Linked DNA regions of Homo sapiens. The protein of the gene in region 1 interacts with the protein of each later gene in a pairwise test. Each region holds a gene or a part of one and is shown in the gene's direction. Other genes may lie near its edges. The genes, in order: EGLN3, CTBP2, RBBP8NL, NCAPH2 and IKZF3.

What was found.
Region 2: the proteins of EGLN3 (region 1) and CTBP2 interact in binary tests that used the Homo sapiens proteins (3 or more experiments, as listed by UniProt).
Region 3: the proteins of EGLN3 (region 1) and RBBP8NL interact in binary tests that used the Homo sapiens proteins (3 or more experiments, as listed by UniProt).
Region 4: the proteins of EGLN3 (region 1) and NCAPH2 interact in binary tests that used the Homo sapiens proteins (3 or more experiments, as listed by UniProt).
Region 5: the proteins of EGLN3 (region 1) and IKZF3 interact in binary tests that used the Homo sapiens proteins (3 or more experiments, as listed by UniProt).

The regions. Positions count from the first base shown.
Region 1 is NC_000014.9:33,929,670-33,935,323, reverse strand, and holds part of EGLN3 (prolyl hydroxylase EGLN3), read left to right. Parts: intron 1-4,108; coding exon 4,109-4,228; intron 4,229-5,654. UniProt on the Homo sapiens protein: Prolyl hydroxylase that mediates hydroxylation of proline residues in target proteins, such as PKM, TELO2, ATF4 and HIF1A. Target proteins are preferentially recognized via a LXXLAP motif.
Region 2 is NC_000010.11:125,152,826-125,158,479, reverse strand, and holds part of CTBP2 (C-terminal-binding protein 2), read left to right. Parts: intron 1-5,654. UniProt on the Homo sapiens protein: Corepressor targeting diverse transcription regulators. Functions in brown adipose tissue (BAT) differentiation. Isoform 2 probably acts as a scaffold for specialized synapses.
Region 3 is NC_000020.11:62,423,842-62,429,933, reverse strand, and holds the start of RBBP8NL (RBBP8 N-terminal-like protein), read left to right. Parts: upstream 1-2,394; 5' UTR 2,395-2,474; intron 2,475-6,092.
Region 4 is NC_000022.11:50,510,102-50,515,755, forward strand, and holds part of NCAPH2 (condensin-2 complex subunit H2), read left to right. Parts: intron 1-5,618; exon of another isoform or gene 5,619-5,646; coding exon of another isoform or gene 5,647-5,654. UniProt on the Homo sapiens protein: Regulatory subunit of the condensin-2 complex, a complex that seems to provide chromosomes with an additional level of organization and rigidity and in establishing mitotic chromosome architecture.
Region 5 is NC_000017.11:39,793,647-39,799,300, reverse strand, and holds part of IKZF3 (zinc finger protein Aiolos), read left to right. Parts: intron 1-5,654. UniProt on the Homo sapiens protein: Transcription factor that plays an important role in the regulation of lymphocyte differentiation. Plays an essential role in regulation of B-cell differentiation, proliferation and maturation to an effector state.

The DNA.
Region 1 (5,654 bases):
GTAGAATTGGGTCTCTGAAGAAGAGACGTTCTACAGCTTCAGTTGAGGGGAAGACAAACATAACACATCATCTTTAAAAATAGCTAACATTTATTAAGCACTTAGTGTGTGCCAGGCCGTGCATTAAGCATTTTACATGGATTATCTCCCTGAGTCTGCATAAACCCATTTTACAGATGAAGAAACCAAGGTGTAAATGAGCTAAATGCAGATTATCCCGTACTTAGGTTGCATTTTATTCAAAGTACGCTTTGCTCAAGACCATGCTTAATTCAAAATGAATCCTTACAAAGGTTGGCTGGTATTTCTACTTAGCAGCTGGAGGGGATCTAGCATTTGTCGGTAGATCAGAATACTAGTTTAAAGCTCCTTCAACCAGATAGTTTTGAAATCACGCTTTTCTCAACAAATCTTAAACAATGGATTTTCATTTATTGGAAATTTTGCAAATAAAATGAGATCTAATTAGTACTTTAATTTGGTGAGTTAAATTTTGTATAAAATGCCACTTTATTATAACTTGTTCAAGATCGAGTCATACTAGTGAATCTGTCTCAAATCATGAGCAATGTAAAATACATTTCTATGAAAATACATGTTGCAACTGTTAGCAGAGAAGTGGTAACGGCAGGGTGGGTGTATCCCCTTCTCACCTGTGGGTCTGAAAAATGATCATCATTGCCTAGTGGATGGTGGAGGTCACTGATGCCAAGTTTTTGAAATGGTTTTTACATGCAGTCAAGCTGCGGTTGATGGCATTCAAGAGCATTCTGTTTAGGCATTGGAATGGAAATCCTGGACTTTTATTTTTCAACTTTACCTTTGGACTTGATGAGATAGGTTTTTTTTTTTTTTTTATGAAGTCAGCTCACTGGTAACTCTTAACAGAACCACTGTTTCCTTTTCCACCTGTGGCATTTGGGGACCACTTTTTTATACTGGGTTTTGACTGTTACGGTTCTATATATCTGTGTATATCTTCAAAGGATACATATACGTTTGTTGTCTGGACATGGCTGCATACGTGTCTAGAGCACATATTCTGGTCTAGAGCCAGCCTGGGCCGGCCTGATTCACCTCTCCACTCATTTCCTATTGCTACAGAGCTAAGGAGAGGCCTCTGGGAATGGGGATGGTGGGAGGTGGGGTGGGTACACTATATAATGTCAGTGGACAGAGCGGTAAATGTGTAAGGGGACATGTGGATTTATCAGTATATCCAAGAATAGAACTATAGGACTATACTGTATGTGCTGCTGTAGATGACACTACTGTGTTAAACTTGCGTAAACTTCAAATATTAATCTAGTCAGGAAGTTTTAGAAAATAAAAAGCCTGTACTAAAGTAGGCATCCTCTTGATATGTGTCAGTTTATTGCTTGGCATGTTTGTTATATGATCATTAAATTACTCTGGCCCGTTCTTTTAACAATAAAGCATTGAAGACTTCTCTTCTGTTAAACACTAAATCCCTTCCCCGGCTTGATGAGGTTTAGATAGCAACTCAGTTGGACTGATCTGTTTCCGGAGTTTGTTACTGCCCCGTGCACAAATTGGCACAGAAGTGAATGGCTAGTTATTGAAGTCAGGCTTGCTTCTCGGTGCATCCTTAGCCTCATGGTTTTAGACCCTGTCAAAGACGAGCAAATAGTTGGGAATGTGCCCAAGCAAAGACCCATCTCCTATGGCACTCATCCAGAAAACACACTGATAAAATTGGCCAAATGTAGCCTCAACTGGCCCACTGATGCTCGAAATGATTTCCTTCCATTGTTTCCAACTTGATGCATGTGGTTTCTGGAACCAGGAGAGAGGGTGAATGTTCACTCTGGCCAGAAAAATTATCTCTTTGCCTCCCTCTTAAGCAGTCGGATACTTTGCTGACATGTAGGGGTTTTGTCCTAATAGTAAGTCCTCTGGAATTGGCTTTGTCTCTGTGTGTTTTATAGATGCGGCATTTGGTAGAGGATTTACTTTTGTGAGTTTGTATCCATCTTTTTTTTTTTTTTCAATATTTTAATCTGAGCTGAGTTCTGAGGCAGAGAAACACTCCTTAATGACCTGAAGAACTATGTTGCTTTTTCAAGGGTTGATGCTTAGATCAAGTCTTAGATCTTCTTGGGCCTTTGACAGCTGCGTAACCCAATCCCCTCTTTATAGGAAAGAGACAGCCTGGGATCACAGTTAGTTGCAGAGTGAACTATGGCAGGCATCCAGACCACTGACCTTTTCCTTAGAGAAGAGCTGTTTAAGCATATAAGATTATAGCATTGATGTCATACTTTTTCTTTTCAGACACACTCAGTGGGGGGAGCCTGAGATAATAGGGAATCCAGCCTGTAATTGTTTGTGGCTTAAGCGACTTTCATTATTGGCTCTGTGGTGGCTCTTATAATCCTAATAGCTGCTTCCAGGGGTGGGTAATTCTTTAGTCATTATAGGTGACTTTATTTGTCTCTTCTTCTCTTGCTAGGCCCATCAATTCTGTTTGCTACCAATCACCCTTCCTCAAGCCATGCTTTGCTTAGTGGTACCATCATTTGTTAAATCTTCATTGCTGACGTCGCCTCACAGTTTCACCTTCTGAAAGATGTTCAAGCTAACAGCCTAACTTGAGCTCTAAGGATGACATCACATTGACATTTTGATGTTCAAAGGCAGGATATGGGGATTGTTTGCTGCATGAGGATATGAAGTTTGAGAGAGATGGTGATTTAAGCTTTAAAATTGTTGTAAAGTCCAGTTACTATTCAGCCTTATTATTGATCTGGCATGCAAGGTGTGTTTTGCCTAGTTCCGTGTTTTCATGCTACTATTGAGAGTGACTCGGCAGCCACGTTGAAGCTGATTCATTGAACCACTAGCCCATTAGCTTGGGGCTCTACTCAAACGGTCATTTTACCAATGAAGCAACGCTGCCATTTATCAGGAAATATATGGCCTGGATCTTTACATGTATGTTTGAAGATAGGTCTTTTAAAATGACAGAAATAGCTATTGATCTAGGTAAAATGTGAACTTACTCTTTAGAGAAAGAGCCATTCGCTAGTTCATTGATTTATTTATCACATTTTAGATGGACACCTTCTGTATGTCAGGCACTGTCCTAGGTGCTAAGAATACATCAGTGAGTAGAACAGGAAAAAAAATCCCTGTCCTCATCTTGTGTTGCTGGTTCTAATATTTTCCTTGCACCTACTGCATCCCTATAAAAAATATTTTTCAAACATGGCGGTATCCTGTGAAGAAAAGAACTGGCTTTCTATACTTTGCTTTCTTCCCCCTCCCCACTCTGTGTTATAATTTTTCCCTTGGAACAATTAGAGGTCTGTTTACTCTAATGGTAATTTTCAGTAGGATTTTTGGTACGGTTTTCTACTTTATTCTTCCACCTGGTTGATACAGGTAGCACTTAGACAAAGAGAACTTCAGATTATCACCTGATTACATAATTATCAGGAAGAAGACACATATTAAGATACATGCATGGCTTTTTTCCTGAAAGGAATCTCCCTGTGTTGTCTGTGTTAACAAGTTAGGGTGCGGCTTCCTATTGATCTTCCTCTATTCTTTCTATCCTGAGCATTTTATTGAGTAAGCCTGACCTTTTCCTCCTTTGGTGATTAGTTCTGTCACTTTGTGTATGCAAATACCTTTAGCCATTGTTCTGAAACAGTGTGAGTGATTCAGCAGCACTTGCTAAACAGTCATAATCCCTAAACTCCACACCTAGTGACTCTGATTTTGTAGCATGGGAAACTAGAAACTGCTTTTCCAAAAAGGAGTATTGAAGAAAGGCAGGGCATACAAACAGGTTATGCAAACAGGGCATGCAGATAGGTTACTTTAAGAAAGACTGTGTAAAATGTTCTAGAACTGTGGGAATATTGTTGAACTACTTTCCACTGGGCAGAGCCATAGTATGACCTGGCCATTGTGCACAGAAGAGTCCAAATTTATGTACCATACATGAAATTAAGAAGCCAGCAACTACCTGTAAATGTCACGTAACACCCAAGGAGACTGTGTTACTTATCTGCTCACCAGTGGGAGGAGAAGATTGTCTGTCTCAGCTTTGTTAACCAGCTTTCTTGGGATTTCTCCATAGGCAATGGTGGCTTGCTATCCGGGAAATGGAACAGGTTATGTTCGCCACGTGGACAACCCCAACGGTGATGGTCGCTGCATCACCTGCATCTACTATCTGAACAAGAATTGGGATGCCAAGGTACTTTTGAATAATGGGAGTAGAGTGTGGGGTTAGAAACTACAGGAAAATGATTCAGATAACTTAGAGGAGAGTTTATATTGAGTTCATAGTTGCCGTATCTCCCACTGATGAAACATTTCTATTTCCATTTCATAACCTCCTGCGACAATGGAATTAGTCCTAAAGTTGTTAAGAAGAAAACAATGAAGTTAATTTGGAGTGGGGTAGGTAGGGTGATTATTAACCCTACCTCTGGGAAGGGTGGTTGATGAAGGGAAGGTAATTTGATATTAGGATTAAGGATTAATTTTTTTCAGTTTAATTCAGAGTTGTTCTGACTCAATGCAGAATAGGATATACACTTTTCCCTCCCAGCAGCAGCATTGAGAAAGTTCCACAAAAATAGAACTGTAGGCTATAAAACCATCCCCAAGAGAGATTTCCCACACAGTCCTCTCCCTCGGGGTGGTATGTCTCATTGATGGCTGCTTGCCATGGCTTACTATGGTTTGTGAATGCCAAAGGCTTTGTGGCTTATTTTTGTATTATAGAACTTATAGATAGATGGAGATATGAAGCCTGGTTCCATGCTTACAGACATTCATCTGGACTCTGTATGCTTTCCGAAAGTTAAGAATGATTTAGGAGTCTGGGAAGTCAGATAACTTTTCAAGCTTATTTGGCTTTTGAACCTTCTGCATCTCAATTTCCTGTTCATTAGGCAAATACTGGCTGTCATAAAGCAATAATATTTATCCAGAGTCAGAAAAACGAAACTTGGGAAACCATTGAATCAGTGAAAAGGCCTATCTCTTCTCCCTGTTTGGTAACATGACTGGAATACATCCATTAAGTCTCCTTTAAAATCTTGAGAGGTGCTGATAGAGACAAGAGAATAAAGTTATCAGACTGGTAATAATAAATTGCAAGGTCTGGAATCATTTAACAAATATTTGAGTTCCTGCTAGTGTCAGGCGTTGTATTATGAAGAAACATTGATGTGTGAGGCCTGAACTTTACTCTGAATATGGTTATTCTAGTAGGATGAAATAGGTTGACATGTAAAAAAAATAATTCAAGGAAGAGAGTGGTGTATGTCATAAAAGGTGCAGATTAGGTGGTCTGAGAGTTCAGTAAAAAGAGCATGTAACTTCCAACTAATGAGGTCAGATAGGAGCTAAGGGAGTTCAGAAGAGCTGTAAATTCTAATTGAAGGGGAAGTTACATGTGATGATTTTCTTAGAAAGTTGTTAATGGTTAGATGGAACCATGTGAGATCACTGGGCATTTTTTTTTAAGTCAAAAACACTCAAATATTGGCAAATCGGTATGATTCAATCTAATAGTACTCTATTTTACGTCCATGGGCTTTATGACTGTGGGGGGTGGGAGTGCTTTTTTTGGTTTAAGGTGAATAAGGAGATATCTCTAGCTAAGTTTGATA
Region 2 (5,654 bases), on another chromosome or scaffold:
TTTGCAATTCTGTTGGATATTCTAGAGACTGGTATATTTTTATCTGACATGGATAATTTTGAGGGGACGTTATATTTTGGGGAAGTTTACAAAGTGATTCTTTCTGCCTTTCTAACTTGGGCGAAATATATCGACTCATACCACCCTTTCAAAAAAGATAGCTTTCTCTACTAGGTGTTTGGGTTCGAAGACAGTTTAAAAATTACCTCGTGTTCAGTACCTAAGATTGCTGTTTTGCCTCGAGGGTTTTCCAAGTAGAAGTGGGTAGTTTTCATGTACTTTGAGAATTCTGAGGTTTTTAACCCCCCCCTTTTTTTTTAAATATAAATCTTTTCTATTTTGAAGTAATGAGACTTTAAAGGATCTTGTTTTTGTAATCACTTGATTTCAAAGGATACTTCTTACAGCAATTATAAAGTAATAGTCAAAATGCTAATTAGACATTTTCAGTCATAGCTGCTTTAATGTTGAAACAGAATTTTTTTCTTTAGCAGAGACTGTATCGTAGAGTTGAAACGCTAAATATTCTTTTGTCTGGCATCAGATCTCTGAACTGCTCTGACATTCTCCTGAAAAACCCCTAGTGCCCTTTTTATTGCCCCCAAAAGAAAAGTTAATGAGATGGTAGATTTCAAGCAAAAAAACAGGCCCTCTTTCTTGCAAAATATGCTTACAGTTGCCATTGAAGTTGGATGTTAGCCGTGAATGCACTTGCCTTTAATGAAACCAGTTTAATCGTTCACACTTGATCAAGTATAACATGAGCAAACAAAGGAAATAAGCCAGCATATTTCTGTAGAGTGTAAGTGTTGATGTTGGGTCACCCCCTCCCCCTACCCTGCCCCCCTGTAAAAGGGAGAGAGGGTTGAAGGCAAAGGGAATTTATGGCGCTGATTGGTTTTTTGTGCCCCAGGGGTAGGGGACCCCAGTTACATCCCTGTGGAAAGCAGTTATTAGAGGGAATTAAAAGATCTTGGGTTTGGAGCTTGTTTTGAACCTGACTAGGTGGTTTGGGTTTAATTCTTTTTCCTGTTCAGAAAGATAAGGTAAAGAATACCGACTCCCCCCCGCTCTTTTTTTTTTTTTAACCCCCACCTGACAACCCCCTCTCTAATTGTACCTTAATAAGAGTCTGCAGGTTGAATGCAGAACCCTGTGAGTTATTTACGGTTTCGCCTGGGAGCTTTGAAACTGACCCTTGAATGGGTGTTCTCCTGCGGGGAGGGGCAGGGTGAATTACCTTTTCTTAACTGATTTTAAAAAGCCTCATTGTCCCTAAAAATCATTTCCTTGCACGAGTTGCAATTTATGTGTGGAACTGAATCATCAATTCCGTGAAGAGAAAGATATTCGTAAAGTACATCTCTCTAAAGTTAAGAAAGTAAGAACGTTTGGCTAGTTAAAAACAAACACTACTGCCATTGTAAAAAACACGCCAGTGACATACTTGGTGAGATATTTTGGCCTTTTGAGAGTCGGGGCACACCTGTTCCTGTCCCTGCCAAGTTGTGTGTGCTTTCCCTGCCATTGTTAATCTGGTCGTGTACACAAGATGAAACGGTAAAACTTGCTATCTGTATAATTATTAACTAGTTTGTCAGTTACCCTTTCAGAGAATAATCAATAACTTCAGTCTTAACTTTTAAAACTCCAGAAATTTTACTTTTTAAGTCTGGAAAATGTTTCAAAGAGAGATTAAATGAAACAAACAAACAGCAACAACAAACAACAAAACCAGAAAATCAACCTACAACTTTTTAGTTTCTGAGTAGCCAGCTACAAGGCAAAGAAATGATGAATATATATAGTATGTACTGAACAAGCAGTGCACTGGATTTTAAAATGATATTTTTATTGTTACCATTGCTGTTAAAATACAAACAGCTCACACTATTTGAAATCCTTGAGATTCACGGATTGAAAAAAAACCGAAAAGGACACCTCTGAGTGAGGGAGTAGCCCTGCTGAGATCTAGCACCAGAATGCCATTTGCCAACAGTTCACTAACATCATGAATCATTTTTGAAAGCAAAGTTATACCCTTTGCACTTAACGCTTTCCCTAAATGGAAAAAATTTAAAGAGTTTACAGCAATGGTAGAATGGCAGCCCCAGTTGTCATTTTTTTACCACTGTCATTTCCATAGAGAGGGGCTGTCATCATAATGTATGTGCATGCAGCCTGGGTCCCTCTGTTAATCTATCAGGGAAAAGCAGCAGCCCTAGTGTCCTGTGGCCCTGAATCAGGCCACAAATATATATTCATACAGCACATGGTTGGGAAGGGAAATTTATCAGTTGGGCAGGGCACAGCTCAGGTAATATTTCCACTTTGGGATGGTAGGTCTGTTACACAGGGTGGAACATATTTTTGTAGTAACTAAAAAATGGGAGGGCAGTGTGTCTGTCCCTGGAAAAAGAAGTATTTGTACTTAATGGAAGTGACCCATGTGGTGAAATCTCGGGGTGTCTTTTCCCCAGCAATCTTTCTATGAATTGCTAGGGGAGGAATGCTTGTGTGAACTTACCCTGCTGAAAACTTTTAGTGGGCACATGAAATGCTGGAATGGATACACTTTTAGAGACTGTGCGGCCTGGCAGATATCAGTTTTCTCCCTTACAGCTGGTAAGCATGTCTTAATTTACGCTGCTGCAAGTTAAAGTTACAGCACTCCTGGAAAGAAGGGAAAATGCAAGGCTTCTCCTCCCCACCTCATCTTTTGAAGTTAATTTTCATTCAAGTCTGTGTTTGATGGAATATGTATCAAAGACTTATGAAAGAGTTTTTTTTTTTTTAATCCTATCTTGGGGTTTGGAAAATTATATTTAATAATTGCTAAAAACTTAAGAACCATTTTAAAGGTGTTCAGTGGCCCTTTTGATCATGATTTAATGGAGAGTATCCAAAAGCCATCAGTGTGACTCTAATGATATTCACAAATTAATGTTTGGGCATAATCTGGAGTTTGCTTTTAGCTATCATTATTAATGTTTAAAGCCTAAATTATGGCTGCACTTGGGCATTCAGAACTTCGCCTGTGAAAAGAAGGGCTTTGCACATTGTGTAAAAAAAAAAAGGGGGGATTCACAAATGAATACAGAATGTACAATAGGGAGAGAGCCAGGCCATTGTTTGTGTGGAATGTTGACCATGGGAGCCAAGGGCTAGTTTCGCCTTCATTCTTCTGACTGCTGGAGAACACAGAAACTTCAGGAGCTGTGGACGGGATGGGAACCAGGGGCACATTCATCCGTCTTTGCCGGGCATGGAGATTTGGCCTGCCCCCTTTCCAGAGTTTTTCTTAGAAGGTGGTCTTTTCTGGACTGCTAAGGAACGTCGTGTGCTTTCTCTTCTCAGTAATCTGCTTTTTTGAGGAACGATTTTAACGGCAGATAGTAAGAGTTCCTCAAGGAAAGTAAACAGACCTTTTCTACCCCCTCGAAATGTGATTTTAGGAAATGATATTCAACTTCAGAAAGGAGGCATCTTAAGTCACAGGAGGAAGTTGTGTTTATTTTTACTCCTCTCCTGACTTTAAAGTAGTTTTTAATCTGTTGGTAGCATTAGGGAGAATGCAGCTAAAATAAGTTTTTGCTGGATGTTCATGTTTTGCGTAGCTGCTGCCATTTCGGAAAAAGCTCCTCCCCCATTCACAAAGCCCTTCTCCTTCCACGTGGGAGCCGAGGTCCCAAAGTGGAACCAACTCTGTAGCTTAAGGGAGGTGCATTCCTGGCCCCTCACTTTCTAACCCTCACCTTAAGTGGAATATGTAGATAATATGTAGATCATTAACCATTGTTGGTGTCTGAAGCCTGTTCAGTTTTTTTAGCAACGACACTCGGTGAGAACCAGTTGTAGTTTGCATGTGTATATGCCTAGTCCCTCCCTCAGTGAATGTTTTAGAAAGTGATCTGCTTTAGCTGTTTACCTAACTAAATTTAACAGATGGTTGCCTAGAGTTGGCTTAATATTCACAAAAATTGTGATGAAATGGTTGGGATCTTATGAATGGGACAAGTGATGATTTTGTTTCTATAGAGAATTGTGACTTTTGTCCTAGGTAATAATAGAGACTTCGTTTTTCCCAAAGATCGGTTGGTGTTTAAAGGATGGGAACCCTGAATAGCTGCTGTTGTCTGCCCCTGATCCTGGTGGTGGCCAGCCTTGCCTTTGGTTTTGTTGCCTTCTGTGAGTCCAGAAAAGCCCTGGAGGCAGGGGTGAGGGGGGAGAGGGAGGGCTGGGCTTTTCATCCGTGGGGTTCTAAAAATCCTTCTCATTTATAAAATACAAAAATACTTACCTTCCATTGTATTGCTGATTTGTGCTTCCTCCAAAGCTCTCCTCTGATCAGCAGAAATGTGCTTCTTGCATTAAAACAAATCCTTAATTATGACTAAAAGAAACTGTCAGCTGCCTTAAAGATTGTCTGGAAATAGTGGCAATATTTCTGTGTCTCATTCCAGCCCACGTTGTGGCAGAAGCCTGGAAGGGCCACGTTAAAGGATGTGTCACAGAGACAGTGTGTGTAGGTCTTCCTGCAGCACAAGCAAGCTCAGGGCTTGTAAAGTCCAGCTTATCGTGGCTGTGCTCCAGCCATGCCTGAAATCTGGCCTCCAGCAATCTGTCCCGTCCCAGGACAAACAAAAACTTTATTATGGAGTCATGGAACCTGAGGAAGTTTCTCTGGAAGGAACCGAAGACCTAGACCGTGGAGGGAGATCAACTCCTCTGGCCTAATGGGGCTTTTCTTTTTCCAAGATGGAATTTAAAAATCTCATCTATAAAATGAGGCTAGCAAAGAATCATTTTATGGTGTAAGTGGCCAGAATCTAACCTGGAAGTGATAGTATTGTACCTGCCGCAGGTGTGTGTGTGGCAGCGGGAGGGTGGAGAGGGGAAATGAGAGGAGAAGAGTTTGGAGGGGAAAACAGAGCATTCGAGGTTTCTCTGCTGGAGGGGGTGAAAGGCCAGGAGTTTGTGCACCTTTCCTTTTAAATGAGCTCTAGCTGTGAGTTTATTATTTTGCTGATGGATGGTCTTTCGTGCAGTCTAGAAGTGCAAACACAGTCGGCTTATCCGCTGCTTGTTCAGGTCCAGGGAGACCAAGGGAACGGGTGGGGGCAGTGCTTGCAAATCCATCTGGATCCTGGACACCCCACTTGGTGTTGCTGCAGCCAGCTCCCAGGCCTGCCCACCTGGAGTACAGCCAGCGCCAGCAGCGGGCAGGGCCCGAGAGAGCTCTTAAAGCCATGTCCCAGGAACGGTTGAGGGAACTGAGAATGTTCAGCCTGGAGTGGAGACACCCCTGGGAAGCCCAACATTGTCCTCTGTGCGGTCATGTGGCCTTACTCTGCTCGGAACAGGGAGGCCTTGCTGTTGGAGCTGCCGGGCCAGATGGGCTGCGTGGGCTCCTGGCACAGGCAGAACTTGGCTGACCATTGGCTCCCAGTGCCAGCCAAGGCTCTGCAAACACCCGAGACCCTGATGGAGACTCAGGCTTTGGGAGCACCTCCTAATGAGCTGGGGAGGATACTGTGTTTTCTTCCCAGTGGGGGGTGACCAATAATCTTAAAGTTTTTTCCCTTTCTCCAGACGTTCAGCTGTGGTCCGCACTCTGGATTGCTCTATCTGCCCTGCGGACTGGATAGAGGCTC
Region 3 (6,092 bases), on another chromosome or scaffold:
AGACAGTGCCCTCTGTGTGCCCGATTCTCACAGCCAAAAGCCCCGTAAATGTGTGAGTCACGTTCTTGGCCATCCATGTGCCCAGAGCCTGGACAGGGCCTGGTGGGCAGCCAGGAAATGGGTCTTGGATGGTTGCATGAATGAACAAAGGGGCACACAAACCCACGGCTGCAGAAGGACGCCGACCTCCAGCGACATTCGACCTCCTCCTCCTCTCCCAGCCTTCCCTCCTTCTCTGCCCACAGTGCAGGTGCAGTGCCAGGGGGCCGACGATGTTGCCTGGAGTTCAGGGTAGGAGGCTGCTGGCCTGGGGTTGCCACCTTCTCCCTGGGGACCCAGCCACAGGCACAACCTGCACGGGCACCTCTGTCCTGTATCACCAAGGCCTGGACATGGCGGGGTGGGGTCCCTGGCCAATGAGCCAGGGCAGGCAGGCACGAAAACTGGCTCAGTCCAGGAGGTCGCTTGGCTTTGCTCAGGGAGGAACTCAAGGTCGAGCCGGTGGTGTTAGACAGCAGCTTTGATTGAAACAGCCATGCATGGCAGATGCAGAGGGACCCCTCCTTGTGAGGCAGGGCTCCCCACAGGCAGTGAGCCCAGAGCTCACATTCATACCTGGAGGCTGCAAGTTCAAAATCAAGGCACCAACTTGTTCCACGTCCGGAGAGGACTCACTTCCCGGTTCATAGACGGCACCATCTCGGGTCCTCACATGGTGGAAGGGGCAAGGGACCTCCCTGGAGCCGCTTGTAGAAGGACACTGATCCCCCAGCAGAGCTGCAGCCTCACGAACTTGCCATCTCCCAGAAGCCCCGCCTCCTAACATCATTGCCTGGGGCGTTAGGATTTCAACGAGAATCTGGGGTAGACACAAAAAACATCCAGACCACAGCACAAAGCAGCTACACATGTCCACGCACACATGTGCACACACACACGTGCAACACATGCACACACAGGCACACACATGTAAGACATGCACACACATTCGTATCCCCACACACACACACACACACACGTGCACACAGTCCCCACACAGGCACACACAAAACACACGCCAGCAGCAAGCAGACCCCACTCACAAAGGGCCCAGCCAGGAACAGGGAGGTGGCCGGAGGAGGGGCCTCCACGAAGTTCCCAGGCCAGCCAGAGCTGGAGTGGCCCATGCTGACCACAACCCCCTCCCAAGAGCCTGGTCCTGAGTGGGAGGGCATCGTGGGGCCAGAGATGACCCAGCCCTCATCCCAAACCCAGAGCTGGCCACCAGCCACCAGCAGGGGCCCTGCCAGGGAGCAGGAAGTCCGTCCTCCCCTCGCGGCAGCGGCTACAGGCCAGGCTCCCAGGCTTCCTCCTCTGAGCCCCGTGCATTCCTGGGGTACTCGGGTGCGCTGGGGATCATGGCCCCAAGGACTCGGGAACCCCCGCTCTGCTTCCGTGCAGAGCTAAGACAGGCTGAGGATGAGGCAGAGGCGGAGGTGGAGGCGGGGAGGAGGGAGTGGGGAGGGGTCGTGGGTAGGACACAGGGGGCAAGGCATGAGGGGGTCAGGGCTGTACCCCGCAGCCACAGTGTTGCTGTCCAGGGAACACACACGAGACCACAGTGTGAGGCTGCTCCAGCACCTGGGCCGTGCCACCCGGGGCCAGGCCAGCCCCCAGCCTATTTGCCCCCCTGGGCTCCACCTGGCCGGGGGCACCCAGCCTACCTGGAGACTGGAGAAGCCCACTCACAAGCACTCACAGACCCCGGGCAGACTGCGCAGACCAGAGGCCCAGCATGCGCCCAGTCCCCCTCAAGCAGAAGGCCTGCTTCCCCAGGCAGGGCGGGGCAGGCTGGGCGGGTCGCTTCCCATAGCAGCTGCTGGATTTCTGTCCACTGGGTTCTGGCAGGGACAGCTCTTGAGCTTATTATCCCCAATTTACAGACAGGGAAACCGAGGCCAGAAAGGGGACTGTCACCTACCTATGGTCAGCCCACGGTGAGCTGAGCTGTGAACAGCAGGAAGGACCACTCTGTGTCAGAGGCCCTACCACCTGTCCCGAGGTGGCGAGACAGCACATTTGCTCACTCCCACCTGCAGCCCCCGACCCAGGCACCCCTGCAAGCCCCCCACCCTTCCCCGCCCGGGCCCTCCGTGTCACAGGCACCAAACTGGATTCTCAGTGCTAACCAGCTTGGCTCCTGCAGCCCAGCCTCACAGTGATTATGAGGAAACAATCCCAACTCTATGTGGCTTCAGACCCAACCTGTCCGGCCACTTTCTGCGAGATGGCAGAACCCGCCTGGCGGCTCAGGGCAGTCTCTGCCTCCTTTCTGCTCCTGGCTGGGAGAATCGAAAACCTGTCAAGCGGGTTTGGCCAAAATCCTGTCTTGTTGCCTGTGCAGGTTCACAGCCCGCTCACTTCTCTCTCCCTGTGAAGAGCGTGGGGGACTCCGCGCAGAGGTCGACAGAGGTTGAGGCAGGGCCAGGAGCCATGTGAGTACCCGGGACCCCGGGGCCAGGCCACCCAAGTAGCCGGGTGAGCTGGGATCCCTGGCTGGGGTGCTCACCAGGGAGGCTGGAGGCCCAGCTTGGACTCCTGCGAGGAGAGCCGCGGGGGTGGGTGGGACTGGACGTCTTCCCTAAGGGGTGGCACAAGGCTGCTCCTGGTCCAGGGACCTAGCAACGGAGAGAGCTCAGTGGGCGTTCCTGGCAGGAGCTGGGTGCAAAGAGGCCAGGCCTAGTCTGGCACCAGGGCCCAGGAAGTGTCCATGGTCTGCTGAGGGGCTTGGGGCATCAGGGACAGGCTGGTGGCCTCGCCCTCCACCCTGGGCCTGTCCCGCCCCACCATCCAGGTTCACAAGAGGATAAGCGGGCGCAGCCACAGGGGTGAGGGTGGTGCAGGGGTGCAGCACCCGCAGCTGGGCACTGAGCAGGGGACTCCTCTGCCGCTGTGTCTGTGGGGAAGCAGCCACAAAGGCGGGCCTTGCTCAACCCCCTCCCCCACGGGCCAGGCCTCAGGGAGCCAGCCGGCAGGGCAGGAGAGCAGCCCGGCCCACCTCCACCTCCGGGAGGGAGTCAGGTTGCAGGGCTGCTGTGCCTGAGCTGCAGGGACACCTCGGCTGGCTCCTCTGTTTATGTGTACACACGAGTGCACGGGCGCACGCGCGTGTGGGGTACACGAGTGCATGTGCACACACAACATGCGTGTGCAGCTGTCCCGGGGGCCCTGCGGCGGTGTGTGCACAGGAGCCTGGGTCAGGGCTCACCACCAACATCTGTTCTACAGTCACAGAAACTGAGGCACGGCCAGACAAGCGACCTGGCCGAAGTCTCCATGGGAGAGGCTTTGCCCATTACCACAGAGGGTGGGAGGAGACTCTGAGGCCATGTCCAGGTCCAAATCTTGCTCCACCTGCTCATCTCTGATCTGCTTCAAGCCTCAGTGTCCAAACCTGTAGAATGAGACAATCAGCACTTCCTCCAAGGCCAGGTGGGCCCCGGCCACATGCATGTGCCCAACCTAGCTATGCAGTGGGTGTTCCACAGGGGCAGCCAGGAGGTGGACAGGGGCAGGGGAATCCCTTGGGGAGAAGCGGGTCAAGGTGCAGAGGGCACCACTCTGAGCTTGGCTTCCTCAGCAAAGCTGCAGGATGGTTTCAGTGCCCATGCAAGTGGGAAAAAGCCTGGTGTGGTGCTTGACACAGAACAGTATGTGATCAACAGCAGCCACTGCCACTGCCACTGCTAATGCCACTGCCACTGCCGCTGCCGCTGCTTCCACTGCCACTGTCACCACTGCCACTGCTACTGCTACCACTGCCACTGCCACTGCTAATGCCACTGCCACTGCCGCTGCCGCTGCTACTTCCACTGCCACTGTCACCACTGCCACTGCTACTGCTACCACTGCCACTGCCACTGCTAATGCCACTGCCGCTGCCACTGCCACTGCCACTCCCACTGCCACTGCTACTGCCACTGCCACTGCTATGCCACTCCCACTGCCACTGCTACTGCTACTGTCACTGCCACTGCTATGCCACTGCCACTGCTATGCCACTGCCACTGCCACTGCTACTGCTGTGGCCATCACCGTTGCTCCTGGATAGGTGGGCAGTCAGTCAGATGGACATACAGACAGCCCAGGCCTCAGAGACGGAGGGTACCAGTGTCCAGCTCCGCACTCCTGCCCCAAAGAGCCTGCTGGGGGTCGGTGGCTGGGGTGGAGAGCAGCCGGCCTGGCAGACGTCCTTGGAGCACTGGTGCCCAGGCGGCTTCTCTGGTTGAGTGCCCTCGGAGAGGCGGGGAGCCCAGTGATGCCCCGGATGCCTCCTGCTCAGACAGCAGAGGAGCTCAGGGGGCCCGGCCTCCCAGAGGACAGGGTAAGAACAGGCATCACTGTGGGTTTTGGCACTCGGCCGGACAATGTCCAGTCCTGCCAGGGCCACAGCTGGGCCTGTGATTCCCTGGCCTGTGTGTGGGAGGCAGGTGGCATCTCCCCTGGGTGTAGCCACAGAGATGCCGTGAGCCCATTGGAGTCCGTAGTGAGCAGCCGTCCAAGGATGAGTGTCATCACCGTCAGAAGCCGGACCTCTGCCCTGAGCGTGGGGAGGGCTGCGTCCTCCTGCACAAGGCCTTTGTGGCAATGAGACTTGACCTTGTCCAAGCACAGAGGGTCCTGCCGTCAGCACTGCTGGACACCTGGGGTCCCACATGAGGGAGGCGCAGGTCATGAGGGAGGCGCAGGTGAATCGGGGTCTCCCTCGGCTGCTCACTGAGCGCTCCTGTCTACGGAGCTCCTGGCCACACAGGCATTACCTGTGAGGAGCTTCTAAGCAGCCTGATACAGGGGCAGGGGTGCTGTCACCCCCAGGTGAGGAAACAGGCTCAGAGAGGAAAAGCAACTTGCCCAAGGCCGCATAGAGAGCAGAGATGGGTCCGAGAGCCCCACCAGGGCTGCTGACTGGGAAGCCCACACCTTTACCCTCCGCCCAGACTGACTCTCCAGCCAGCACCCTTCAGGAATGCGACCCCTGCCCCGCCCCAGCCAGCTCAGCGGGTGGGGGGGGTGCACCCTCTCTGCTGGGGCTCTGAGAATGCGTGAGGTAGGATTAACAACAGCAAACCTCTGCCCCCTCTGAGTGGCCACTCCAGAGTGCCCTGGGAGAGTGGGTGGAGACCCTAGGAGGGCAGGTGCAGGCTCTGGGGGGCCTTTAGAGGGAGGTGGGAGTCCTGAGGGACAGGCAGGGCCCACAGTGCATGTCCATTCCCTGGATGAGGACATGAGGTGGAAGGTGGTCTGCCAGCCTCAGGCTCCCCATGGAGGGCTCTCCTGGGCCCTGTCCGGGGGATAAGAGGCACCCGTTTACTGGATGGGCTCTGTTCCGTTCTGGTGAGAGCAGCACGTCGCCCCTTGGTTTTAAGGAGCAGTCCCCCGAAGGCAAAGGTGCTGGCACCAGTAGCACCTCACTGCAGGAGGCGGAGCTGCCGGCCTGGGTTAGCTGAAGCCCAGCCCGGCTCTCACTAGCTTTGACCGTGGGCAAGACGCCACCTCTGGGTCGTGTTCTCAGTGGCAAAATGGAGCAGAGGGCAAGGCATGGTGGGGTGAGAGTGGTGTCGAGGGGGACAGACATGCGCCCCTCACACCTGCCCCCCCCACGGCCCAGCTGCAAGCAGCAGGTGGGACAGCGGCTCACTAGCCTGCCCTCCCCTTCCCCCACTCCTTCCAGGGGGCTCAGCACCCACAGAGACCCTCCAGCCTGGACTCCCGAGTGGGAGGGTCTGGGAGTGGGAGGAGTGGCTGAGGGTGACCCTGGACCAGAGCTCAGCTCTCTCACCCCAGCCCTGTGAAGCCCCCCATGAGCCTCAGCCCAGCCCCTCCCCGCCCCGGTAGGCTTGCTCCCCCATCACAGCCCCACTGCAGCCCCCACCCAGGCCTGGAGGAGACCCTCCTTCCGAGTTCCCCCAGCCCCAGCACCCCTAGCTGCCCTTGGCAAGCCCAACAAACCCAGAGAAGGCTGACTCGGGAAGAAAAAGCCAGCCCCACTGACCCCGCTGCTGACCCCTGGCTCAAGGCTGCGGGTGCGGGTCTGGGTGAATTTCTACAATCCT
Region 4 (5,654 bases), on another chromosome or scaffold:
TAGTAGAGACAGGGTTTCACCGTGTTAGCCAGGATGGTCTCGATCTCCTGACCTCGTGATCCGCCTGCCTTGGCCTCCCAAAGTGCTGGGATTACAGGCGTGAGCCACCGCGCCCGGCCTCTTTTTTGTTTTTAAATAAAGAGGGACTTCATATGGCAAGGAAAAGGAGAAAAAAAAAATCAGAGAGGAGGATCTTACTGTGTTGCCCAGGCTGGTCTCAAACTGCTGTGCTCAAGCAGTCCTCCTGCCTCAGCTTCTCAGGTAGCTGGGACTATAGCTGTGCACCACCACACCTGGCTGGGAATATTCTTTCAATGACTGAGTTTGTTTTCTTTTCTTTTTTTGAGATGGAGTCTTGCTCTGTTGCCCGGGCTGGAGTACAATGGCAGAATCTTGGCTCACTGCAACCTCCGACTCCCAGGTTCAAGCAATTCTCCTGCCTTGGCCTCCCGAGTAGCTGGGATTACAGGCATGCACCACCACGTCCAGTTAATTTTTGTATTTTTAGTAGAGATGGGTTTCGCCACATTGGCCAGGCTGGTCTCAAACTCCTGACCTCAGGTGATCCAGCCAGCTCTGCCTCTTTCCAAAGTGCTGGGATTACAGACGTGAGCCACCACGCCTGGCTGACTGAGTCCTTTTCATTCTTAAGGTCTTAGTGTAAATGTCAGCTGACCACCCTATCTAAAATAGTCCTCTCCATCTCAGCACCTTACACACTTTAGAATGTTTATCATAAACCATTTAAATTTTTTTTTTTTTTGAGATGGAGTCTTACTCTGTCGCCCAGGCTGGAGTGCAGTGGCATGATCTCAGCTCACTGCAAGCTCTGCCTTCTGGGTTCACGCCATTTTCCTGCCTCAGCTTCCCGAGTAGCTGGGACTACAGGCACCTGCCACCACACCCGGCTAATGTTTTGTATTTTTAGTAGAGACGGGGTTTTACCGTGTTAGCCAGGATGGTCTCGATCTCCTGACCTGGTGATCCGCCCGTGTCGGTGTCCCAAAGTGCTGGGATTACAGGCATGAGCCACCGCGCCCAGCCAAAAAAAATTTTATTTATTTATATGTTTTTTTTTTGAGATGGAGTCTCACTCTGTCACCCAGGCTGGAGTGCAGTGGTGCAATCTCAGCTTGCTGCAGCCTCCACCTTCTGGGTTCAAGCAGTTCTCCTGCCTCAGCCTCTTTTTTTTTTTTTTTTTTTTTTGAGACGGAGTCTCACTCTGTCGCCCAGGCTGGAGTGCAGTGGTGCAATCTCGGCTCACTGCAAGCTCCACCTCCTGGGTTCACACCATTCTCCTGCCTCAGCCTCCCGAGTAGCTGGGACTACTGGCACCCGCCACCACGCCCGGCTAATTTTTTGTATTTTTTTAGTAGAGACGGGGTTTCACCGTGTTAGCCAGGATGGTCTCGATCTCCTGACCTCATGATCCACCCGCCTCGGCCTCCCAAAGTGCTGGGATTACAGGCCTGAGCCACCGCGTCCGATCCTGCCTCAGCCTCTTGAGTAGCCGGGATTACAGGCGCCTGCCACCACGCCTGGCTAATTTTTTTTTTTTTCTTGAGACAGAGTCTTGCCCTGTGGCCCAAGTTGGAGTGCAGTGGCACAATCTCGGCTCACTGCAAGCTCCATCTCCTGGGTTCGCGCCATTCTCCTACTTCAGCCTCCTCAGTAGCTGGGATTACAGGCGCCCGCCACCACGCCTGGCTAATTTTTTTGTATTTTTCAGTAGAGACAGGGTTTCACCATGTTAGCCAGGATGGTCTTGGTCTCCTGACCTCGTGATCCACCCGCCTCGGCCTCCCAAAATGCTGGGATTACAGGTGTGAGCCACCGTGCCTGGCCCCAGCTAATTTTTGTATTTTTAGTAGAGATGGGGTTTCACCATGTTGGCCAGGCTGGTCTTGAACTCTTGACCTCGTGATCCGCCCACCTCATCCTTTGAAAGTGCTGGGATTGCAGGTGTGAGCCACTGCGACTGGCCACAAGCCATTCTTCAACTCATTTACCTGTTTGTGGCCTGTCTCCACCCTAGAATGTGAATTCTGCCAGGGCAGGGACCATACTTATGCCCTCTTTTGTCTGCTTAGTAGAGTGCCTGGCACATAGGTGTGGACGTTAAAGTGTTTGTTAAATGCACATGTGATCTGATGACCAAACTTCTCTGCTCTCATGCATAGTTGGCTGAGAAAATACGGGGAACTGTGCTGGGCAGAGCTCCTGTGGATTCAGGTTTTCACATCAAGCAGGGTCCATGAGGACACCTGTTCACTTGGTAAATCTCCTTCCTGGCTTGGTCAGCTCCCTTCCTGCTTTCTTATGTCTGCTCTTCCAAACCTCTGCAGCTTGAAGTCCTGATTTCCTGGTTTCTAGTATTATCTTTTTCCTTCTGTCATTTTCCACACACTACCATGATGTTCTTTTTCTTTTTTTTGTCCTTTGTTTTTTTTTTTTTGTTTTTTTTTTTTAGATAGGTTCTTGCCCTGTTGCCCAGGCTAGAGTGCAGTGGTGCAATCATGGCTCACTGCAGCCTCGATCTCCCAGGCTCAAGTGATCCTCCCATCTCCCAAGTAGCTGGGACTGCAGGCATGTGCCACCGCACCTGGCTAATTTTTTGTATTTTTGGTAGAGATGGGGTGTCACTGTGTTGCCCAGGCTGTTCTCAAACTCCCAAGCTCAAGTGATCCACCTGCCTTGGCCTCCCAGAGTGCTGGGATTATAGGTGTGAGCCATTGCACTGGCCAGAATGTTCTTCTAGTACTGTCATGATCCTACTCTCTTTTATCCATTTATTTATTCATTGTTGTTAGTTGTGAATTGTGTGCCAAGAACCATGTTAAACTTTGAAAAAATAGTGCCAAGCAAAGCAAATGATAATCCCCACTATGGTAGGACTTCCTCTGTCATGGGAAGACGGGTCCAAGAGAGTAACCGCATGGGGGTGTAATAAATATGCATTTGGTGTTTACTTGTGTTAAGCACCTGTTTTATGTGCTTTACACATATGAATGCAGAGTCCTCACAAAAACCTTGTTAGTAGAGGCGTTAGAGATGTACTCTGAATGATAGTGGTTCCTGGCAGATCAGAATCCAGCCTCCACCCCTGCGTGTGACTTTGTGTAGTCAGAAACTGATGGCCAGGCGAGGTGGCTAACGCCTGTGATCCCAGCACTTTGGGGGGCCAAGGTGGCTCACGCCTGTGATCCCAGCAGTTTGGGGGGCCAAGGTGGCTCACGCCTGTGATCCCAGCACTTTGGGGAGCCGAGGTGGCTCACGCCTGTGATCCCAGCACTTTGGGGGGCCGAGGTGGCTCACGCCTGTGATCCCAGCACTTAGGGAGGCCGAGGTGGCTCACGCCTGTGATCCCAGCACTTAGGGAGGCCGAGGTGGCTTACGCCTGTAATGCTAGCACTTTGGGAGGCCGAGGCAGGAGGATCATTTGAGGTCAGGAGTTCGAGATGAGTCTGACCAGCATGGTGAAAACCTGTCTCTGCTAAAAGTACAAAAAAAATTAGCCAGGTATGGTGGTGCATGCCTGTAGTCCCAGTTACTTGGGAGGCTGAGGCAGGAAAATCACTTGAACCTGGGAGGCAGGGGTTGCAGTGAGCCGAGATTGTGCCACTGCACTCCAGCCTGGACAACAGAGCGAGAGACTGTCTCAAAAACAAAAACCAAAACCAACCAACCAACCGAAAAAATCACCAGAAACTTATAAGGGATTTGAAAGAAAATGTATGGTCCTGTGGAGAGTTTGGGGGGCTTAGTTTGTTTGAGATGAAAGCAGTTACTTATTTATGGTGAGCTAAAGAATGTTTAGCTCCAGGTGGAGGAAACCTGGTGTTGGAAGGATTGGAGTTTTTACAAAAATTAGCCGGGCGCCTATAATCCCAGCTACTCAGGAAGCTTAGGCAGGGAGAATTACTTGAACCCAGGAGGCGGAGGTTGCAGTGAGCTGAGATTGCGCCCCTGCATTCCAGCTTGGGTGACAGAGTGAGACTCCGTCTCAAACAAAACAAAACAAAACAAAACAGAAGGTTCCAAGTTGGGACCATAGAGCAGAGGAGGGCAGGCAGCTGGAGAGGGAGGCTGGCCAGCATGGAGGCCTCCCTCTGGCTCCGTTTAGGATTTTGGGTTTTTCCTGCCACTGTTAGGAAAAACCCAAAATCCTAAACAGAGGCACTGAGCAGAGCGTGGAGAGTGGACGGGAGGGGAGTGAAGGGCAGGAGGAGCCCTGTCAGTGCAGAGGTGAAAGGGGAGGTGGTGGGGCCAGAATGGGGGTGACTGTGGAGAGGAACCCCTGGGTTTCTGGGCAGGTGGGTTGGGGGCTATTTGGAGTTCAGTGTGGATGCATTCAGTATGAATCTTGGTGAAGCCATCCAAGCGATGTTTGAAGAAGGCAGCTGAACATGTGGGTTTGGGCTCAGATGGCAGGTCCAACCTGGGGAGGTGAGAAGACAAGTGAAGCCCAGTAGTGTCTTGGGAGTGGGCAAGCCAGCCAGGCTGAGGGTCACTGGAGAGAAGGGCCACTTCTGCAGCTCAGCTTCCAGGCCGCCATCTCCTCCATGTTCCCTTCTTTCTGGACCAGCTCTTCAGGTCCTGAACACCCCCGAGGTCCTTACACTCCGTAGACGACCATGCTGCTGTTTCCTCTCCCTTCCTCCCAGATCTGACAAACACCCTTTATCCTTCAAGAGCTAATGGAAGTGACTCCCCTTGGGGATGGCTTCCCAGCCTCTGCCACTCCTTCGTGCTACCATGGTGCCTAAAATCTTGCCTCTCCCCAGCACGCGCCATGCTTTGGCCATGTTTAGATCATGCTCATTTTCCTGAAGAGACGTGTCCAGTCTCTGCTAGCTGCCTTCACGTTCCCTTCATCTGTCTGGTGAGCCTCTGCGTTTTTCAGGCTTAGCTTTGACATTATCTATGCATGTGTTCATCAAATATTTACTGGACACCAGTGTCAGGCACTGAACAGAAGGCTGGAATTACACTAATGCTGCTCACACAGTTCACTAAGGGACACGATCACACTAAGGGAGCGGCACAGAGGCCCCAGGAATGGAGGGGCTCTGAAAAAGAGTTTGCGTGGGGACAGCTGGGGGTCGGTGTTCCAGGCAGATGGAAATGCAAAATTGAAGAGCTGGAAAGACACCTAGGGGCTTCAAAGTGTCGTTTGTGGCTGGGCACGGTGGTGCATGCCTGTGATCCCAGTGCTTTGGGAGGCTGAGGCAGGAGGATCACTGGAGGCCAGGAGTTTGAGACCAACCTGGGCAACATAGAGAAACCCTGTCTCTACAAAAACATTTTTTTTTTGAGACGGAGTCTCGCTCTGTCGCCCAGGCTGGAGTGCAGTGGCGCGATCTCGGCTCACTGCAAGCTCCGCCTCCCAGGTTCATGCCATTCTCCTGCCTCAGCCTCCCGAGTAGCTGGGACTACAGGCGCCCGCCACCACGCCCAGCTAATTTTTTGTATTTTTAGTAGAGACGAGGTTTCACCGTGTTAGCCAGGATGGTCTCGATCTCCTGACCTCATGATCTGCCCGCCTCGGCCTCCCAAAGTGCTGGGATTACAGGTGTGAGCCACCGCACCCGGCCTTTTTTTTTTTTTTTTTTTTAAAGTGTCATTTGCTGAGAAGGAATACAGGAGATGAGCCA
Region 5 (5,654 bases), on another chromosome or scaffold:
TGGGCCAGTTAGGAGGCTAATGCAATGATATATTCATACACCAGGAATTTATGGGATGTCTACTTTATGTAGGGCACTGCATCTAACTCGAGGCAGTGGCTCTCAAACTCCATTGTGCATAAGGTTTATCTGGAGAGCATGGTTTTAAATGAACATTTCCAGTCTCCACCCCCAGATTAGTAGATCTATGGTAGGAGCCCCAAATTTTCTATTTTAAAACCACATAACCTCTGGTCTTACAGATACAGGTTAAGCAGTGTCATAGGGAATACTGAGTTAAACACACACACACACACACACACACGCACACACACACACAATCTGTATAGCTTCTGCCCTCAGCTAGTTTACATATTTATTGGGGAGACTAGGGGAGGTGAGTTCATAAGTAACCCAGGAAGAAGGAGCAGGCTATTTTCCAGCTGGGTTGATCAGAGAAGGCATAGTAGCCAGGAGACAGCATATTAGTTTGACCTTTAAAAATGTGTAGGACAGTGGCCAGGCGCAGTGGCTCATGCCTGTAATCCCAGCACTTTGGGAGGCCGAGGCCGGCGGATCACGAGGTCAGGAGATTGAGACCATCCTGGCTAACACAGTGAAACCCTGTCTCTACTAAAAATACAAAAAATTAGCTGGGTATGGTGGTGGGCGCCTGTAGTCCCAGCTACTCAGGAGGCTGAGCCAAGAGAATGGCATGAACCCGGGAGGCAGAAGTTGCAGTGAGCAGAGATCGCACCACTGCACTCCAGCCTGAGAGACAGAGAAAGACTCCGTCTCAAAAAAAAAAAAAAAATACGTAGGATGTGTAGGACTTGGACCTGTGGCCATATTGGGGAAAGATCTTTTAGGCAGTAGAAATAAGACTACTTAGAAGCTCTTTAGTTAAAGATCTAACTAGTCAAAATTAATATGCCAAAGATAGGTTGGGGCCAGATCCCGAAAGGCCTTTTAAATTATTTGTTTCTGAGTTTGGACTTTATTTTGTTGGCAGTGGAAAATATTGAAGAATTTTGACAGGGCTATGACATGACCAGAGGTAGAATTTAGGAAGAGCAATCTTGTAGCAACAAACAAGACGGGCTGGAAAGGAGAAAGAAGGGAGCCAAAGAGAACAGTGCGGGGGCTACAGCAATAAGTAGATCGTGGGAAAGTCATAGGGTCTGAGAATTAGGTAATGGGCATGCAAAATACAGGAGTGGAGAAACAGATTAGAGATTGGATACACAGATAGAACCACTGAATGATTGAATGTGGGGCCCAATCAGGAGAAAGGAAAGATGACTCTAAGGATTCTAGCCTGAGTAACTGGGAAGATACCTAGGAAGCCTTCAGAAATAGAGGACTAAAGAAAGGGAGAGAGGTTACACCTGGAGTTATATATATGGAAATTAATCATATAAGATGTTAGTCGAAGCCTTAAGAATGAATGAAATTGCCATACAAGAGGGGTGTAGAGGGAAGAAAAAAGAAGGTTAAGGACAGTATTTAGGATGCAGAGGGAAGAAAAGGGGCAAGAAGGAAGCAATCAGAAAGGCAAGGAAAGAAGGTACATTTTCATTGAAGAAATAGGAGTGCAGGGGCCGGGCACGGTGGCTCATGCCTGTAATCCCAACACTTTGGGAGGCCAAGACAGGTGGATCACCTGAAGTCAGGAGTTCGAGACCAGCCTGGCCAACATGGTAAAACCCTGTCTCTACTAAAAATACAGAAATTAGCCAGGTGTGGTGGCACGTGCCTATAGTCCCAGCTACTCGGGAGGCTGAGGCAGGAGAATCGCTTGGACCTGGGAAGCAGAGGTTGCAGTGAGCCGAGATCGCACCACTGTACTCTAGCCTGGGCAACAGAGTGAGACTCTGTCTCAAAAAAAAAAAAAAAGAAAGAAAGAAAAGACATAGGAGTGCAGAAGAACAAGGAATGGTGAGTGGTCAGTAGTGTTGAGGATTACAAAGAAGTTGGAGAGAGTGGCATACAAAAAGGCTCTGAATCTAGGAATCAGGAGATTATGGTTGGTGATATTCAAGGGAGCAGATTAAGTGAATTGTGGAGGCGGAAGCCATATTACAGAGAATTCTGAGTCCTTTTTGAGGCTGTAGAGGCAGTAAGCATAGCTTACCTATGTCTTTTTTTTTTTTTCTTGAGACGGAGTCTCACTTTGTCACCCAAGCTGGAGTGCAGTGGTGGGATCTCAGCTCACTGCAACCTCCACTTCCCAGGTTCAAGCGATTCTCCTGCCTCAGCCTCTTGAGTAGCTGGGACTATAGGCGCACACCACCACGCCTGGCTAATTTTTTTGTATTTTTAGTAGAGATGGGGTTTCACCATGTTAGTCAGGATGGTCTCGATCTCCTGACCTCATGATCCACCCGCCTCGGCCTCCCAAAGTGCTGGAATTACAGGTGTGAGCCACCGCTCCTGGACCACCTGTGTCTTAAATCTGTCTAGAAAGGAATGTTGAGGCCGAGCGCAGTGGCTCACTCCTGTAATCCCAGCAGTTTGGGAGGCCGAGGTGGGTGGATCACGAGGTCAGGAGTTCAAGACCAGCCTGGCCAAGATGGTGAAACCCCGTCTCTACTAAAAAAAAAAAATTAAAAAAATAGCCAGGTGTGGTGGTGGGCACCTGTAATCCCAGCTACTCAGGAGGCTGAGGCAGGAGAATCGCTTGAACCAGGGAGGCAGAGGTTGCAGTGAGCCGAGATCACACCACTGCTCTCCAGCCTGGGCAACAGAGTGAGACTCTGACTCAAAAAAAAAAAAAAAAGAAAGGAATGTTGAGAGAGGATGAATTTAGGTATGATGTGATGAAAGGTGAAACCAAATTGCAAAAGGAAAGGAAAAGAGGAGTTGGCACCTAGAGAGCCTGAAGACATAGAGTTGATAGATCTTGGAGACTGACTTGATGTAGAAATTGAAAGAGAAAAGGTTCCACAGTTTGATGGCTTGGAGACTGGAAGAAGGGTGATGCCATTTGTCAACATAAATAAGTCATAAATTAGAAGCAAGTTTGGGTTCAAAGATGACAAGTTTGATTTTAGACATGTTCATTAGTATTTTCTAATAGAATTTTTCTAAGTAGAACACCCCTTTTCTCTGCTTCAATAAGTCTTCCAGGGAATGGGATGAATCTCTTCATTAGAGCAGGCTAATGCCTTTCCTGGTTTTGGTGGACTGTGTTTGGAGGCTGAGTACTAAGCCTAATATCTCTCAGGAATCTCATTCATACCTTAAATTCTAATTTATTTTATTTTATTTTATCTTTTTTGAGATGGCGTCTCGCTCTGTCGCCCAGGCTGGAGTGCAGTGGTACGATCTCGGGTCACTGCAACCTCCACCTCCCAGGTTGAAGCGATTATCCTGCCTCAGCCTCCCCAGTAGCTGGGAGCCACCATGCCCAGCTAATTTTCTATATTTTTAGTGGAGACGGGGTTTTGCTATGTTGACCAGGCTGGTCTCAAACTCCTGACCTCAAGTGATCCACCTGCCTTGGCCTCCCAAAGTGCTGAGATTACAGGCATGAGCCACTATGCCCAGCCAGCAATTTATTATGGCTTACCTTGAGAAGGTAACAGAGTTGAATATTAGAATAAATTAGAATCTGGTTGGACACGGTGGCTCAGGCCTGTAATCCCAGCACTTTGGGAGGCCAAGGAGGGTGGATCACTTGAGGTCAGGAGTTCGAGACCAGCCTGGCCAACATGGCGAAACCCCGTCTTTACTAAAAACACAAAAATCAGCCAGGCATTGTGGTGCATGCCTGTAATCCCAGCTACTCGGGAGGCTGAGGCAGGAGAATCACTTGAACCTGGGAAGCAGAGGTGGCAGTGAGCTGATCGTGCCACTACACTCCAGGCTGGGCAACAGAGCAAGACTATGTCTCAAAAAATAAAATAGAATAAAATAAAAATAAGTTGCTAATCCCCAGTAACCATGCAGAGAGGTCATCCAGGTCATTCATCTAAAACTGGTAAGACTCCAAAGGCAAACCAGCAACTATGTAAGCCCAAAGGACTTCTCTAATGCCCTGTCCCTGTGTCCTTATGTCCCTGGGTCTCAAATACTGTCTTCCTTGCTCTATAGCTGACTCCTAAAGGACTAAAGCTAAGATCTGCTCTTGAGCCAGGATGGTGTCGTATTGAATTCCAGGTCAGGCCAACTAAAGCCAAAATCCTGAGGGAAAGGAGCAGCTCTCTTATGTCCTCTGTTTTCAGAAAGACTCAACACATTGATCTTACTACATTTTAAAGTTCAGTGACCATGGAGTGGCCTGAGTCTGGTCATGTTCACATTTTCTAACCAAAATGGAAAGGATCCTTTTCTGCTGGCCTTTTCTATCTGCTGTTTTTGGTTTTAAGTAGCTGAAATTTTCCGTTGAGGTTCTTTTAAACGCCTACATGCAAACTGAAGAGCACTCAAGCTTTGGTGGGATATTACCCACAGCTGGAGTGATGGAGGAAGGGAGGCAAGTACAAGCCTCAGGTGCATCCTTCTCTTAAAAAAATAAAAAATAAACACTTAAGCAAACAAATTCCACTTGAAAGCAGGGAAGACCTATCCAGAGAAAGAAGTAAACCTCTTTCCAAGTAGGAAACAGATATCATTTCTTATATAATCCAGATCCATAGGGTGGGCAAATTTGAAACATGTTGGACTTATCCTACAGCCCTACATCTTTGCTAGTCAAAGAGTGAAAAGTTGTGAACCATGAACTGTGGTAGGAAGCAGTGGAACTGTGTGGCAGCCCTGGCTCCTCTGATGGTGGTTAGGCCCTGTCTTGCTCTATTAAGCAAACACAGTTAATATAGATGAAAGGTAACCTTGATAGAAGTGAAAATTGAAACTTGGGTTGAAGGTAGCAAGCCAGGCACAGCTGCAGTTGTACTTCCTCCTATGCAGCAAGAGGAGCAACACTTACTGATGTTTTTTGGAAGGGATGTAGTTTTTTAAAATATCTTTTTTCAGACTGTTTTGGGTTTTAACATTTACACCATTGATGGGAGGGTGTGTAATACAGTTGGTAAGAACCCACTTAGGCCTTATATGTCTAGTGCATGAGGTCAAATCCAAGTAATTGATAGTTCAAGCTTAAGTTTTGCATTCTAATCACACCTCTGCCAGTAACTGGATGTGTAACCTTCGACAAATGACCAAAAACATCTCTGCTCCCAGATTTCCTCATCTGAGAAACAAGAGGGTTGGATTAGATGACCTTTAAATTCCCTTCCAGCCCTACACTCCATTGATTTGTGATTCCTCATGGGGAGGTACAACTTTTGATTTCTAAGGACCAATGGTTGAAAAAGTAAGCATTTATATAGCATATTTTATATATGCAAAATCCCTTACAAATGTTTATTATTCTTACATCAGGCAAATTTTTAGGTTTTACTAGTGTCAGTGCAAGTACATAAATTTGCCTTCTTTGTTTCTTATGTTCTTCATATTTTTCCCACGTTCTTCATATGTTCTTATGCTCTTCATGAAGAGTATTACAGCTCTTCTTTTAAATTTCATTCATTTACATTGCAGTTCTTAAGATAGTACTTGGTCAGCCAACTCACTTGAGCCAGTCCCTCCTCTCCTATCCAGTCCTATTACACAATCCTTGAGTCCTTGAGTTTAGTTCTCCCTAACTTGGGACCTAATGGTCCTTCCCCTTA